2 separate regions of the Homo sapiens genome follow, and region 2 is linked to region 1. Evidence: fine-mapped expression QTL. A gene starts in region 1. The other region holds a variant in brackets. All regions are shown on one strand. Distances are between the middles of the regions. Region 1 holds the start of TRIM58 (tripartite motif containing 58). Region 2 holds the start of LOC102724446 (a long non-coding RNA gene).

Region 1 (8,570 bases):
AATACAAATTTAAGTTAGAGTATTCCCATTAAACCAGAAACTGCCTGGCGAGGCACTCCACATAGCATTTGTAAATACAATGACATCTGGATATAATCCAGTCCACAACTTACCTGCATGGACGTGCTGTAAGGGAAATGTGTGTTTCTAAGAACAATGGTACCGATGTCATTCCTAGTCAACCAGTGTCAGAGACAAAACAGTTTAAGCTCAGCAACTCTAGGACCAGCAGGGGAAGAAGTGAGCTCGCCCACTCCGTCACACCCTACTGAAAACCACAGTGACCCCCAACGTCAGAAGCCAGGGGCCTTTCCTTAGGATCACAGGCACTAGGAAATCTGAATTTAAGTGAGCCTAGTTATCAACTGGCCCATATATTTGAGTAAATGGATTGTTTTACTGTGTCTCGTTATGCCTGCAAAATAGAAAAATGCTCCAGCATCTGCCAGAGTTATGGAGAGCCAGGGCAAGATCATATATGTAAAATGCAGAAAAACATGGATTTGACATTTGACATAATATAATCATCTTTGAACTTCCCTCTTTCATTAGCTCCTATGATAAACTGTCCTAATTCTGTTCATTTACTTATTAACTTGTTTAATCAGTTAGTATGTGTGGAGTGTCCATTTGTGCCAGTTACTCTTCAAGGTCCTGGGGATAGATAGAGCAGTGAACAAAATAGAAAAAAATCTCTCTTCCTAATGTAGCTTACCTTTTGACTCACCATCCTTCCATTCACTTCACTATTTCATTTCCTTTTCTTCAATTAAATATATTTGCTACATGGCCGGGCGAGGTGGCTCACACTTGTAATCCCAGCACTTTGGGAGGCCAAGGTGGGGAGATTGTTTGAACCCAGGAGTTTGAGACCAGCCTGGGCAACAGGGCGAAACTCTGTCTCTACAAAAAATACAAAAATTAGCTGGGCGTGGTGGCGGGCACCTGTAGTCGCAGGTACTTGGGAGGCTGAGGTGAGAAGATCACTTGAGCCTGAAAGGTAGAGGCTACAGTGAGTCAGGTTGTGGCACTACACTATAGCCTGGGCAGCAGAGCAAGACCCTGTCTCAATATATATACGTGTGTGTGTGTGTGTGTGTGTGTGTGTGTGTGTATTTCCAACATGCCAGGACCTATATTAAGTGTCTACTATCTATTAGCTCGTTTAATACTCTGAAAGGCCTTATATGAATGACACTAACACCTCTTCACTGCACGTCAGAAGAAATGCAGGGCAGAAACGCGGCACAGCTTGCCTCAAGCTTCTCAGCAAGTGCCACAGCCCTTAGTCCGGAGCCAGAGTCTGTTTTTCTTTGCTAAGCCTTCTGCTCTTTAGCTTTTTTCTCTAATGCCACATCTTTCGTGTTTTGCTAATACAGATCCATGTGTGTTCTCCAAGAATCTATTCGCTTTAATTGCGCACTTAACCTTTAGGCCTCAAGATCCTCTGCTCTGCCTGTCGCCAGAGATCCAGCCCAAGAGTTTGTCCTTATAATGAAGACCCACAAACCCCAGAGGATCCCCAAGGACCTGAGTCATCTGGCCCCGCCTCTTGCTGCAGCCTTATCTGCTGCCACCATATTCTGGCCCAGCTTGCCAGCCTGCCTGGCTTCTCACTGTCATCTGGGTATGTCTTGCTCCCACCTGCTGAAGTTTACCTTGTACCTTTCATGGCTTCTGGGGGCACGGCCTTGCGGAGCCCCCCTTCCCGCTGGCCAGCTTGTGTTCACCTATCAGAGGTTTGCTCAGAGACCTCAGGTGTCTGCCCCCGACCCTGCAGCCTCATTCAGAGTCCTCTGTTATATTCCTGCAGGACTGGTGAGCGACCTTCCTTGCAGTTATTGGTTTGTAATTATATGTTTGCATGATTTCATATCCACCTCTTCTAGTTGATCTTAAGGCTCCTGGAGAAATGGGGTCCCACCTCTTTTCCTTAACATGTGTATTTTCAGTACCCGGTGCAATGTCTGAGACTCCTGGCTACAAACAGACACAATGTGTGCTCAGGGACAGATTGATTTGCCACAGGTACACCCCACCATCACTTCAAACTCGACCATACTAAAGTTATTTTGCACAGATGCAGACACTGCCTCAGACTTGTCGACTTTCTGGACGACATTAGAGACTTTAATGTACTTTATCCTGATTCAGCCTTCCACTGGATGAAGTAACATACTCTGTCAAATCATTTTGCTCCTGTCTCAGCCTCCCCCATCTGACAGGTACACCACTGAGAGGCTAAGCTTGAATTATTCCTCTGATGAGTATCTCTATAGCTTTGTCATCTCCAAGACTGGCTTTGCAACAATCCTACAACATGTGTGTATTCCTTGTAGGATCCTCATTGAACTAGGCCAGATATTTATTTAAATATTTAGAATTATTTTTGGCTGGGCTGTAAACCTATAGTTACACACACCTATGCAGGCATCTTCCCGTGTCAGGCGGTGTCTCATTTCTTTATCAAGAGGTAATTAGTGCAAGAGAAAAAAATGAAGTTTGAAAAAAACATTTAAAAATTGATTATGCCATATAAAGGGGGAAAGCCTTTTAAGAAACGATTATGGCATGAGAGGACCATGGAGTAGCTCAGTAACAATGGAAGGGGCTCGGAGGGTGGAAGGCGGGCGAGGGATGAGAGATCACCTAATGAGAACAATTTACGCTATCACAGCGATGCCTGCGCTAAAGCCTAGACTTTATGCAGTGTCTCCATGTAACAAAACTGCACTGGTACCCCAGAAATCTGCACTAAATCTATATAATGATGATGGAGGCTGGGCGCGGTGGCTCGCGCCTGTAATCCCAGCACTCTGGGAGGTCGAGGCGGGCAGATCACCTGAGGTCACGAGTTCAAGACCAGGCTGACCAAAATGGTGAAACCCCGTCTCTACTAAAAATACAAAAATTAGCCGGGCATGGTGGCGGGCGCCTGTAATCCCTGCTGCTTGCGAGGCTGAGGCAGGAGAATCGCTTGAACCCGGGAGGCGGAGGCTGCAGTGAGCCGAGATCGCGCCACCGCACTCCAGCCTGGGCGACAGAGCGAGACTCCCTCTCAAAAAAACAAAAACAAAAACAAACAAACAAAGATGGAAGGAAGGAGGGAATTTAGCAATTCTCCAGATCTACTGCCAGTGAAAATAGCATATGAGGAGGGATTCCAGTTAGAAATGCCCAGTTTCCTGGGTGTGTGTGTGACGGGGGCGGGGAACCACAACGTTAATTTTATCCCCGACATAGGGAGCGCCTGAGTGGTGGCTTTTCACCGGGTGTGGCTCGTCTGAGCTCTTGAACTGAAGCCAGCGGACACCACCCGTCGGCGCCTGCTTTCCTGGGGCGTGGGCTCCTCCCCCTGTGCAGACCGCGAGGGGAGACGGTGCGGGCGGCCGGGAGCGCAGCCCTCCGGGAGGCGGGTCATGGCCTGGGCGCCGCCCGGGGAGCGGCTGCGCGAGGATGCGCGGTGCCCGGTGTGCCTGGATTTCCTGCAGGAGCCGGTCAGCGTGGACTGCGGCCACAGCTTCTGCCTCAGGTGCATCTCCGAGTTCTGCGAGAAGTCGGACGGCGCGCAGGGCGGCGTCTACGCCTGTCCGCAGTGCCGGGGCCCCTTCCGGCCCTCGGGCTTTCGCCCCAACCGGCAGCTGGCGGGCCTGGTGGAGAGCGTGCGGCGGCTGGGGTTGGGCGCGGGGCCCGGGGCGCGGCGATGCGCGCGGCACGGCGAGGACCTGAGCCGCTTCTGCGAGGAGGACGAGGCGGCGCTGTGCTGGGTGTGCGACGCCGGCCCCGAGCACAGGACGCACCGCACGGCGCCGCTGCAGGAGGCCGCCGGCAGCTACCAGGTGAGGCGCCCCCCGGCGGGGGCTGCGGGCGCTGCGGTGACCGGGAAGCGGGCGACAGTCCGGAGCGGAGCCGCCGAGGCCACCCGTCTCCTGAGCGGCTCCCACGGCCGCTCCCCCCACCGCGCGCCGTCCCCCCCGCCCACGCGGCTCACTCAGTGTGGGTCTCTTTGCCTTGGCTGTGGTAACCCCCTTTGCGACACACACCCATTATTTTACACCGTCCGCCCCTCCCCCAAGCACTCTCCTGTCGTCGAACTCGCGCTGGGCTGGTTTCTCCCGATGCGGATAGTCTGGTCCCTCAGCTGGGCTCTGGTCGGGAGGGCTGTGTGGTCCAGTTCATTCTTGGTAACAATTGTACGTCTATATCGTAAACTTGCCATAATAATTCTCATTTGTGCAATGCTTTGCTTTTGCACAGTGTTTACATTAAATGAGTGTTGTCAGCAAAGCAACCCTCGGGTTTGGGCGTTGTTAAGAAGAGTGTCGAGCTGGGTACGGGTTCCGACCCCTCCAAAGCTCAGGTGCACGTGCCTCCTGAAGTAGGAGCGGGTGGCTCTCCATCAGCAGGGATTTGGGGACTTAGGATTCGAACATCCTCAATGAAGAGGTGCTTCATTTGGGGTGTAGCCCGGGAAGCTTCAAAGAGAAAGAAGAAAAACAAAATGGGAGTATTTGGTCCCCAGAGTGGCATCTGTGAAATTGTGTGTCGATTTCTTCCTACTGGTGCCCTTCAAAAGTTCTTGGATGTTTTCTGAACACACTTGAATCCCAGCATGTAGAACAACTGCCAGCACAGAGGAGGTCTAAGTCGTCTTTACTGACAGATTTAACCAAAGGACTGTCAGTCGCGCTGTAGTGCATTGCAAATACTTTCTTAAAATTTTTATTTATTTATTTTGTTTGTTTTAAATTAAGGTTTAGGATATTTTCCCCTTCCTTCTCTACCAATATCTCTCTTGGTATTTCTTCTTGATTTTCGTTGTCATTTGCGAGATGTAGGTACTAGTACTAGGTAATTTCTAGCTAAACTTTTCTGGAATGTTCTTGCCTTTTTAAAAAAAGTCCAGAAAGAGGATTGGTAGTAACTTTTTTTTTTTTTTTTTTTTTTTTTTGAGACGGAGTCTAGTTCTGTAGCTCAGGCTGGAGGGCAGTGGCGCAATCTCGGCTCATTGCAACCTCCGTCTCCCGGGTCCTGGTGCAAGCAATTCTCCTGCCTCAGCCTCCCGGGTAGCTGGGATTACAGGTATGCGTCACCACACCCGGCTAATTTTTGTATTTTTAGTAGAGACGGGGTTTCACTGTGTTGGCCAGGCTGGTCTTGAACTCCTGACCTTGTGATCCATCCGCCGTGGCCTCCCAAAGTGCTGGTGTTACAGGCAGCCCAGCCTCTAGTGTAATATTTCTAAAGGTGTTCTCCATATTTTCAGTAGTTCTTCGGTTAAATACCAAATAAATATTATCTAAACTCCTGAGCCTCTCAGTGAAAGCTTTCTAGGGCCCTAAGTTATGTTTCCATAGCTCTCTTGTCTTAACCAGCCAGGAAACCCAGCAAATTTAGCCGAATCACTGTTTTCCTAACTGTGCTACATCTCCTTGCTTTTGCTGACAGTTTCTTTGGCCTGAGGGAGCTTTTCTTTATCTACAAGTGTCAAAGTGCTCCGTTCTTTGTAAACACCAAAACACATGCCACTTTCCCCACTGAGTCAAATGGTATCATGAATTCTACTGTTATTTTATATATAACAATTATAATATTCTCCTTTTAAAAACAATTGATGTGTATGTAGGATTTATTGAGTAACTTTGGGAATATAATTTTTTAATTAAAATCCTGTTTATGTATGTATCTTTGTGAGTATTTAAAATACACATATTTACCTCTAGTGAGCGCCCTATCATTGAAGGAAGATTTAGTTCTCATTGTATTTTTACTCATTGCAAGGTTTACAACATACTGTGTTTTTTCATATAAAATATGATAACCTACCAAGTTCCTTCTGACCTAATAATACTACTAATACTACAATAATAAACCCATGCTTTATCATAAAGTAACCAATAACTTCAAGAAGTTGAAGTTATATAGAGAAATACAGAATACAGTTATATAGAGAAATATATAAATATAGAGAAATGTATAAATATAGTTATATAGAGAAATATATGAAATATAGAGATATAATAGCATCACTCTTCATCCAAACACCAATAGATGACATTTTATCTAATATCATTCTCATTTACATCAGCCCAGTTTTAATATATTCATTACCAGCACATTTTTTTTCAAAATTCATGTTGTTTTGTAAAATATTTTTATTCATTGGACATTATCATTGTATTTCTAGTCATTAAACATTCTGTAACATCTTATTTTAATTCTATCCAGTTAATATAATTTTTTTCTCCCCTATCTTTAATGTTTTAGTTTAGTTATGCTATCGTATATAACAATGCAGTGAGCATACTTTTAGATAAATATTTGATTGTATCTGGTATTAAAATACATTTAAGGAGCTAGGCCCAGTGGCTCATGCCTATAATCCCAGCACTTTGGAAGGCCAAGATGGGAGACTCTCTGGAGGCCAGCAGTTTGACACCAGCCTGGGCAATATAGTAAGACCCCATCTCTACAGAAAACAAAATTAGCTGAATGTAATGATGTGTGCCTGGAGTCCTAGCTGCTTGGGAGGCTGAGGTGGGAGGATCATTTGATCCCAGGAGTTTGAGGCTGCAGTGAGCCATGATCGCAACACTGCACAACCTGAGTGACAGAGCGAGACCCTGACACTAAAACTTAAGTACATTTATGTTTAGTTTTTAATGATATTGAACATTTTTATGTGCTTTCTAGGGACTGTTTAAGTTGACTTTTGTATTTCCTCACACATCTGTGTGACGTTAGGTACAGATTGAGGGCATCTGTAACAGCTGAAATGTTCCCAAACAGGTAAAGCTCCAGATGGCTCTGGAACTTATGAGGAAAGAGTTGGAGGACGCCTTGACTCAGGAGGCCAACGTGGGGAAAAAGACTGTCATTTGGAAGGTAAGACCATGTTGGGGCTTTAGGAGGCTTGCCTGTTTGAAGGATCCAGATTCGGGTCAGTAATTCTTCTACCATCTTCCATTCTCCAGCACTTTTGTTCCATCTCCATATATGCCCAAGAGCACCTCAGAGCCATCCTGGGTCATCCCGTCCCCTCAAATGATATGGTTCATTTTTGTTCTTTTTGTCTCTACTGCCATCACCCAATCCAAATTATAATTAAATAGCTTTGCTAGTTTGATCTTCCTGTAAAACCCACTGCTGTATCCCTGTCACCTAGAATAGCATCTTATACTGTTGCTACCAGTTTGAAAATATTTGTTAGGTGAATGAAATAATGAATATTTCACAACTTTGTAACAGAAGAAGTGTAGCCCAAGGTGATCATCTTATATACAGGGTAATAATCTGAACGTTTAGCCTTTTTTTTCTATCATCTATACATACACATATTCCATTTTTTTATACCTCACTAGCTCTTTTTATTCCATGTTTCATTCATGCACATGTGCGTGCACACGTGTACACACACACACAGTGATTCATACACACACAGTGATTCACATACACACACACACACAGTGATTCTCAACCTGAGGCGATACCTGCCCCCCAAGATAACATTTTGCAATTTCTGGAGATGATATTTTTGGATGTCACAACTGAGGAGGGGTGGGTGCAGTGCACCTGTCATCTAGTAGAGGCAGGAATGCAGCTTAACACCCTGTAGTCCACAGGACAGTTCCCATATCTTGTGAGGAAAAAATGATCTGTTCAAGATGTCAGTAGTGTCAAGATTGAGAAACTACGTATAGAAACTGTGTGTATAGTTCTATATATTCATATAATGTATTATATAATATGATATATAATAGGTTATACTTTGCAGAATATTCCTATTCTTTCTCCTTTTCCAAATAACCCTTCTTTTCTGATCACTCTATATATTTATAATTATTTCCTTCTTGTTTTCTTTGAAAATTTAGTCTTATACTCTGTCTTTATACAGATATTACATAAAGACTTTTTAAACTATATTTTTCTTTATTTACTACATTACTAGATTACAATATAGATATATACGGATAGGAAAAGATAACACTTATCCCAGAAGAAACATGTACATTAAGGCCAGGCGTGGTGGCTCACACCTGTAATCTCAGCACTTTGGGAAGCCGAAGCAGGTGGATCACCTGAGGTCAGGAGTTCGAGACCAGCCTGACCAACACGGAGAAACCCCGTCTCTACTAAAAATACAAAAAAAAATTAGCCAGGCGTGGTGGCACATGCCTATAATCCCAGCTACTCGGGAGGCTGAGGCAGGAGAATTGCTTGAACCTAGGAGGCAGAGGTTGTGGTGAGCTGAGATCGTGCCATTGCACTCCAGCCTGGGCAACAAGAGTGAAACTCTGTCTCAGACAAAAAAAGGAAAAAAGAAAAGAAAAATGTACATTATAGGTAAATGATGTAGATAGTGATAGGAAAGGATAAAAGTTATCAATATTAAATAATATTGATGTTAATAACATTAGTACCTAACGTTACTCAGATGTGTGAAGAAATATTTAAACTTATTAACGTTGATACTGACAAACTTATCAATATTATTAACAAATATCTTTAAACTAGTAGTGACAGTATAAGATGCAATTCTAGGTGATAGGGATATAGCAGTGGGTTCTGCA
Region 2 (8,570 bases), 220 kb before region 1:
CCTGGCAGCAGCGGAATGTTGGATCTATTTAAGATAAATATTAACAGCCTGATTATTATAGGTGTTATTATTCCAACAATAACCAGTACCCTAATTCTCTTATTCCAGCTCAGTGTCCAACAATTCTGTCCAGTTCTGACACTAGCCGGAGTTAGCGCTGACCCCAGGGGTTAAGGGCTCAGTTCCCCAAGACCACCTCCACTTCATATGCAGGCCAGAAATGGGGTCCTCAGGCTATTTACACTTCTGCCTAGCTCACTAAAAATGTGAGGGTTGGTAGTTTGTTTCAAACTATGACTCCATCACTCCTGTCCCCAGGTTTGAGAATTTTCTAGAATGGCTCATTCCTCAGGAAAGCGCTTTACTTACAGTCACAGTTTATCTTAAAGGATACAGTTTAAGAGCAGCCAAATGGAAGAGATGTACAGGGTAAGGGGTGGGGTGGGGATGGAGGTTCCCTGTCTTCTCTGGGGGCACTAGCACCTCAATGTATTCACCATCCTGGAAGCTCAGCCTCGCTGTTTCAGGAGTTTTACTGAAGTTTCATTACATAGGCATGATTGATGGCAATTGGTGGTGATTGGACTCAATCTCCAGCCCTTGTCCCCTCCCTGCAGATCAGGGGGTAGGGCTGAGAGTTCAGCCCTCTATTCATGTGGTCGGTTGCCCTGGCCACCAGCACCCATCTAGAAGCTATGTAAGGGCCATCTAGAGTCACCTCTTAGCATTAACTCAGGTAAGATCAAAAGGGGCTGTTTATGAATAATGGAAGAAACTCCTATCACTCAGGAAATTCCAAGAATTTCAGGTGCCTTTTTGCCAGGAATCAAGGGCAAAGACCAAATAGATAAACATTTTGACCCTAACTTTTGAGACAGGGTCATGTCAGAGCTCAAGCGATCCTCCTGCTTCAGCCTCCCAAGTAGCTGGGACTAAGGTGCATGCACTCATACCCGGGTAATTTTTTTTTTCATTTTTTGTAGAGATGGGGTCTCCCTTTGTTGTCCAGCCTGGTCTTAAATTCCTGGCATCAAGGGTTCCTCCAGCATCAGCTTCCCAAACTGTTACAATTACAGGTGTGAGCCACTGCATCTGGCCCAAATATATATTTTTGATGATAACACAATGGGAGTATCAAAAATTCAGATGGGAGAGCAGAGTCCATTGTTCAGAAGAACAGCAGATCAGTGAAGTCCAAGTGTCTGAAAACCAACCCAGGCAGGGAAGAGTAGGTGGGCAGTTGGAGGGCCAAGAAAACTAACAGCCTGATGTGGCTGATGAAGGACGGAAGTGGATGTGGGCTTTCAGCCATGAGCAGTTGGCAATAACTTAGAAGTAGAGCCTGGGTGCGGAGAAGGAGCAAGTAGATTTGCAATTTTTCAACCTCTCCTAGGTTTCAGGAGTTCATGAGTGTAAATAAGTTCATGAATGTCCAGGCATATTCACATGCATAGCTCCATGTCTCCAAATCTTCACTTGCTTGACAAGATCTTAATCCCATGTTTCTCTTGTCTCCTTAAATTCCTCCTCAGCTATTTCTGGGTGTCCTTGGAATGGTGATGTCTCAACATGGGCTTGGGAACACGTTTGCTCCTCTTCTTTCCACTTGAGTCCAGGGGCCTTGCCATGGCCTCTGCACTTGGTGCTCTTTGAAAGACATGATTCCTGTGCACCCAACAGACCCCTGTGAAACAGGAATAAAAATGTCTCATAGGATGTCAGTGAAGATTCAATAAGATAGTGTTTATAAAGCACTGAGATTAAATAAGAATGTTTGATTCCTACTAAAAGCTCAATTAATGGCTGGGGTTATTATTATTACTGTTCTTATTGTTAGGCATGGTTTTGAATTCCTCACCATCCTAATTGCCACTTAAAATGAACAACTGTCTTTGTGGATACAATTTCAGAGGCAGCATGGGGACTAACTTTTCCAGAACATGAACCTAGTGCCTCCTACAGTGGTAGAAATTAAAATCCTGTGTGAAAACACAAATATGCTTGGGAGAGTTACTGATTGCCAAGAAAGCTCTTTAGTTTCCTTTCTGTGTGAAGAAGCAAGCAGGGCTCAAGGGGCCCTACCAAGGCCATGGAGAATGGTAAGTGCTGCTCACAGCCACCCAGTCTGCGTTCTCCTTTCTAAAGGAGGTCTAAAGAGGTGGGAGTGAATCAGTTTAGTTTGCAAACACACACACACACACACACACACACACACACACATATGAAAATATGCAAGACGGAATCCCAGGGCCACTTTGGGGTGAGACCTTCCCCATGAGCAGGAAGGATGTTGAGGAACTGGAGCAGAGCCCAGGCGGGAAGAAGAACCAACAAGGTCACGTGGCAGCTTGATCTGGCTGGGAACTGAGCTCTGCAGTGTGCTTGGGAATATAAACAATGGGGACAGAAAAGAAAAAAAAAAGATTTCATTAGAAATGTAAAATCAACCAGGAGGGCAGCTCTGTCCTGCTGGGGCATAAAGCCATGGTGGAGGCCCAGGAAAGTTCTGTTGATGGAAAACAGTATCTGGGCATTTGGCAGCAACAGATGACTTAGATATGTTCCCTTGATTTCAGTACTCTCACTTTTATATTGAAATTATGCTATTTGATTTCTCAGCACCTGGTAGAGTGCCTGCACAAGGACTGTGCAGTTAGCATTTGCTGAACTTCACAGAATTGGGGATGGGGTGGAGAAAAGAGCAGAGCCCATCACGAGAGGGAGGTAAAGTTGAGATAAAGAAGTTTGAGATGCTCTAGACACCCTTTGCGTACTTCACCTTTTTTTCTGGCATTAGCCTTGAGCATTAAGATGCAAAGTAAAAGCGAAGGAAAAGGAAGAGGCCTGGAGTGAGGATAGTGCATGGAGCTCATCCTCATGAAATTCTTCTCTGGTTGCTGTTCCCATGAGGTTATGCGATGCCTGAGCCCAGGAACTGTGCTCCTGGGTCCTGATACCAGTGCCCAGCCCATAGCGGGGGATCCCCATTTTATGATAAGAATAAATGAGCACCTCCCAGATCGGTGACTTGCTCCACCCCACAATAACCCCGGGAGGAGGGTGTGGTCAGTCCAGCTGTACAGGTGAGAAAGTGAGCTGGGAGCTGTGACTTATCCACACCCTCTCAGCAGCAGTTGTGACAGCTGGGGTCACACAGTTGATTCACTGCCATAGGGGAAAAGTGGAGGAGGGAGAGGGGCAGAGAGCGAAGAACAACTCAGGAAAATGAAGGAAAAGCAGAGGCAGAGAGCGAAGAACAACTCAGGAAAATGAAGGAAAAGCAGAGGAGAAATTAACTGACTGGAAAAATGACAATAGTTGGAAGACAGACGAAAAAGGGACGAGTGCATCAGAGTGTATTTTGGCACTTATTACTCTATCTCCTTTTTATACTACTTCGCTTTTTCAACTTAATAGTTAAGGCACGTCGGTCTAGTCTTCCCCGAAGGGAGCTTGCCAGGCTCTGCGACAGGCTTGGAAGTTGGAGCCCGGGCCCTGGGTTCTCTCAGCTTCCAGCTCAGGAGGCGGAGTGGGAGGAGCGGGCCTGGCGGCCGTGGGGGCGGGGCTGCTCCACTAACGGTTACTGGTCGCTGCTGCCGCCGCGCTCCTCCCCCGGCTGCGGCAGAGGCGCGCGCCTGCGTCCTGAGGATCCCGCCCTTGGGCCGCCGGGAACCTCGCAGAGCGGCGGGGTGGCCCTGGCGAGGCGCGGTTGTTGGGGGTTCGCTCGAGCCTCACGACGCCCGCGACTGGGGACTCGGAACCTGGGCCAGGCTGGGACGAGGCCGCGCGGGAGGGCGCGCTGGGCGGACGCTGGGGCCGCGGAGCCCAACCGCCCTTGTCCTGGACGCCCCTTGGCGGTCCGCACTGGCGGGTGCCCTCTCCCGAGGGGAACTGAGGCGGGGCGCCTGCCACCATTCGTGATTTTCCGTGACTCACCCTCTCAACAGTGTCCCGTCAGCCCCCGCTTTCTGGAATTAAGATGATTTTCCATGGGCATTATAGTCAGAGGAGGTTTTCTGTGAGACATCTGGGAAAGGTGACTCAATGATCACTCATATTGTTCTATGATGTTATACATTTAAC[C/T]GGAATACTGGTGAACAGCTTTTATATCTTGGAATTTTTTCCCATTTTTGAATCAGAAATTTAGGACCAAGAATCTTCTGTCACAGAACCTATTACTTTGAGGAGTGAACTTATATTAACGGTGCTAAACCGTACATGAACGACTTGGTAGATGAAAACTTTGGAAAATAGGAACATTTCATGTCATCACATGTATCCTCCAGCATTGGGGAAAATTCAACAGTTGCCTTAAGGCGGGAGTTTAATTGAGGACATTTACTAAAAAGTTACTTATTCTGTTTGAAATTCTCTTCTGATAAACATCTTCCCGGGATAACGAACATCTCCAGGATGTGAGAGCCGAGCGCGTGTCCGCGGAGTGCTTGAGCAACGCAGAATGGCTTCGGTGCTGCGTTCCTTAGACCCCGTGCGGACCCTGCTGAGCCCTCAGCATCTGTGAGTGAGTCCCTCCGCGTCACCTTGGCCTCCCGTGTAGCTAGATCAGTCTTCCGACCCCTTGTTCTACTTGCACAGATTTCTGATTAACCTCTTCTGCTCCTCCAGAGATGAGTCAGGGCTCCGTATCAGCTCCCCAAGGCATTTGCTGGCTTCTGACATTTACTTGGAGGACTTTGGGCTGCGAAAGGGCAAAGTTTGCCGTTCTCATCTCTTTTTTTGGTGCCTGCCCCCGGGTCTTGACCTTTCTCTGGAGTCTTCTCTCCTGGTTCTTTACCCACCTCTTTGGTTTCTCCTGTGGTTCTTTGTCAAGGTGTCCCCTAGATGTCACACTCTGAGGCTCAGTTGTGGCTGAGTCTTGCATTGCAAGTGTTTTTGCAGGTGTCTCTGCGAAGCGTGGATATGGGATGGTGAAAGTGGCAGTGTGCACAGAGTGTTTGGGATTAGATGGGCAGGTGGAAGGGCGTCTAGGTAGGACCCCTTTGTCCTGGTGTGAGGTAATGAGGTTCTAGAGTGTGCTGTCAAGGTGAAACTAAAAGGAAAGGATAGACAGGAGACTTTGTGAAAGACGAAATTATGGTAGTTTGGTAACAAATGGATGCAGGGACTGGTGGGTGGGTGTAGAAGAAGGCAGAAAATCTTGCCAAGGACATTGCAAGTCCTGAATCAGACCAGGAAAATTAAGGTTCAATTAACAGAAATAAGTCCAGAGGGGGAGCTAATTTTGGAGGAAGTGTGGTGATAAATTTGCTTTTCTATGTGGTCCAGCTGGTGGAGAGACATCAAGAAGCACTTAGAGAAATACAGGAAATAGAGAGGTGGGTGACCTAAGTCCTACTTCCTATCCTGTCTATGTATATATAACAAAGGCCAAATGAATTCATGTGTTGAGGTCTGCTTTCCTATTTCTAATAGCAATGGCATAAAATGAATTCTAGCCAATTCTAAAGTCACTAGTAGATAGTAATATTCACGAAGTAGCCACAAATCCAGGGCTCTAACTCAAGGGAGAGAGATCGGGACTGGAGATAGAATTTTCACAAGTAACTGATGCATGGCACTTTTCTGTATTTTGGTAAATGTATTGAGAAGATGATTGCAGTTAAGTAGCTAACTGTTCCAGATACTATCCGAGGCATGAATGATTTGTCCTGGAGTAGGTGTGCTGTGTCACTGTAGCATATCTACTACAACAGACATGATATGTTTCCATACATTATCTCATTTAACACTCAGAAGAACTTCAGGAGTAGTTATTACTAGTCCATTTTGCAGAAGCTTACAGATAAGATTCAGAGATGAAGCATCAGGTCTATCTGATTTAAACCCAGGTCTATCTGATTTCAAAGTCGATGGACTTTTTGTTATTTCATACCATAATCTGTCAGGGTGTGAGTGGGGGATAAAAGAAAGTTAAACAAAACTCTTGGAAACAGAGAGGAAGGGCTTAAACCATTAAAATTAACTTCAGAAGTCAAGAATGAAGCTCGGGCAGAAAACAAGTAGAGGGCACAGTTCTGTCCCGATTTACAGAGGATGGGTTTGCGACCTTTCTGATGCATTAACTTAGTAATGCTAAGGTGTGCCATCCAAAACGATCACCTGTATATAAGCCACTCTTTCACAGAGGTGGGTTTTTCTTTTCTTTTTTAATTCCCATGCTGCTCAAAACCTTTTAGATTTGAATTATTGGGAAGAATATCTCAGGGTAGGCAGGAAGCCAAAGGGGTTGAGAGCTGCTTGTCACTTGCTGGTTTTGCTTGGTATGGGCTCGGTCAGCAGTAGGGACTTCCTTAGTCCTCAGTCTTTCTAGGTTAACTACCACCCTCTTGGTCCTTGTTTCTGTTTTGCTTTTCCTGGCTTGGACATGGAATTTGTAAGTGCCACACATTATTTCCTGTCCCATGACCATACTTAAGCTATAAATTATAGTTTTGTTTCTTCCTGATCCTTTTCCTTCAACACCAAATGTGTTTGTGCCTCAAACCAGGAAGTTGGAAATGTTATTTAACTTTCCTGCATTTTAATTGGTCACAAATCTCTCCCCTTACACACACGCCCCCAACTTTTGAGGAGTCTTGAGAATCTCCTTAACGTCCTTGACAGTTGATCAATGAAAGACATGTAGGGAGATCCAGATTGCAATGAATATTGTATTATTTGCTTAAGAATTTGAAGAGTTATTGCTTCGTAGTAAATGAAGATGAGCATATTGAGGTTTATAAGGGAGGCTGAGGTTCACTTGGCCAGAGATTCAGATGTTCACTTTATTTTATAATCATCCTTTTTAAAAAACAAAATAGACTGACATGGGCAACTTTCTCAAGATTTCATATGGCACATTGCATGTAGGGATAAACAGTACCAACATTATTTGCTTGGAGTGCTTTAGGATCGAGGAATGGGGAAGCCTAAGCAAAACCCCCAAATCTTGGCAAGCTCAGGAGGAGGGAGCAGATAGCACTGCTGGGGTGATCTGTGCTGCTTGAATGCTCTTTTGGAGAATCACTTCCCTGTAGATAGGCCACAGATTACAGTTTACCAAAAGCATTGACTGTCAGACCCACATAGCTGGTTTCCATTAACATGGTTTTGCTCTAGGTCTTTTTCAAGTCCTCTTTTTTTGTTTGTTTGTTTTTTCTTTTTTCTTTTTTTTTGAGACGGAGTTTCGCTCTTGTTGCTCAGGCTGGAGTGCAATGGCGTGATCTCGGCTCACTGCAACCTCTGCCTTCAGGGTTCAAGCGATTCTCCTGCCTCAGCCTCCCGAGTACCTGGGATTACAGGCGCCTGCCAGCACGCCTGGCTAATTTTGTATTTTTAGTAGAGATGGGATTTCACCACGTTGGCCAGGCTGGTCTTGAACTCCTGACCACAGGTCATCCACCTGCCTCGGCCTCCCAAAGTGCTGGGATTACAGGCATGAACCACCATGCCCGGCCTCAAGTCCTCTTTTAAACGTGGAAACTTCTTCCTGCATTACACAGTTCTTTTCTCACCCTCTTCCTGCCTCCCTTCCTTTCACTATACCTTAGCTATACTGAATTGGACATATAATTCTTAGCTCATGCATGGCTTTCTTTTAATAATTAGCTAAACAATAGCATGGTCATATATGATGATATCACCCAACCAGAGAATAACAACATTGTCCGTATTTACCTCTGTACATTTTCTCTGCAGCCTGTATGCCTGTCTCTCTTACCTCTTTGTGCTGATTGTTCTGTTGCCTTTTTTGTAGTTTTCATAGTTTCGTCAGTGTGCATGTATTTATACATTTATGTATGTATGTATATGTGTTGTTTGTGTATATATGTTCACATGTATGTGTAGCCTAAATATAGCACCTAAACAATATTCTATTTACTTTTAGTCATTTATGAACTTCATAAGAAGCTTATTATTCTGTATAGAGCAACTTGGAGCTAGCTTATTTCACTCAGTAGTATGTTATTAATATCCAACTGTGTGTACAGTTTAATTTGTTTTTCCTTGCTGCCTATTATTCCACTTGATTATGTCACATAATTTGGGTCGTTTGTAAATTTTTGTTGTGAGCAACAGTCCTCATATGAATCTTCTTATACATGTTTGTGAAGCACCGGTGCAAGGCATCAACTAGTTCTAAGAGGCTTGCTTTAAAATTTAGTGGGAATATGTACATGAAAATGAGAACTGGCCAGGAGCGGTGGCTTATGCCTGTAATCCCAGCACTTTGGGAGGCCAAGGCAGGTGGATCATGAGGTCAGGAGATCAAGACAATCCTGGCCAACATGGTGAAACCCTGTCTCTACTAAAAATACAAAAATTAGCTGGGCGTGGTAGCAGACACCTGTAATCCCAGCTACTTGGGAGGCTGAGGCAGGAGAATTGCTTGAACCCAGGAAATGGAGGTTGCAGTGAGCCGAGATTGCGCCACTGCACTCCAGCCTGGCGATAGAGCAAGACTCCGTCTCAAAAAAAAAAAAAAAAAAAAGAACTGTAGCAGCATGCTCAGATGTGTGATTCAGAAGTGAAGCTAGAATGAAGATGATGTAGAGAAAGCCAGGAGGCCA

Evidence for each region. PIP is the estimated chance that this variant, and not a neighbour inherited with it, causes the effect.
Region 2: its variant is fine-mapped to the expression of TRIM58 in subcutaneous fat (GTEx, PIP above 0.99).

The regions. Positions count from the first base shown.
Region 1 is chr1:247,853,828-247,862,397 of GRCh38, forward strand. It overlaps TRIM58 (tripartite motif containing 58), which reads left to right and starts at 3,360. Exons shown (of 6, transcript NM_015431.4): 1 at 3,360-3,839; 2 at 6,790-6,885. The coding sequence starts at 3,420. RefSeq lists a cis regulatory region at 1,273-1,837.
Region 2 is chr1:247,635,912-247,644,481 of GRCh38, forward strand. It overlaps LOC102724446 (a long non-coding RNA gene), which reads right to left and starts at 4,943. Exons shown (of 3, transcript NR_188589.1): 1 at 4,800-4,943; 2 at 1-24. RefSeq lists a silencer at 3,754-3,952. The variant C/T (reference allele first, on the strand shown) is at 4,084.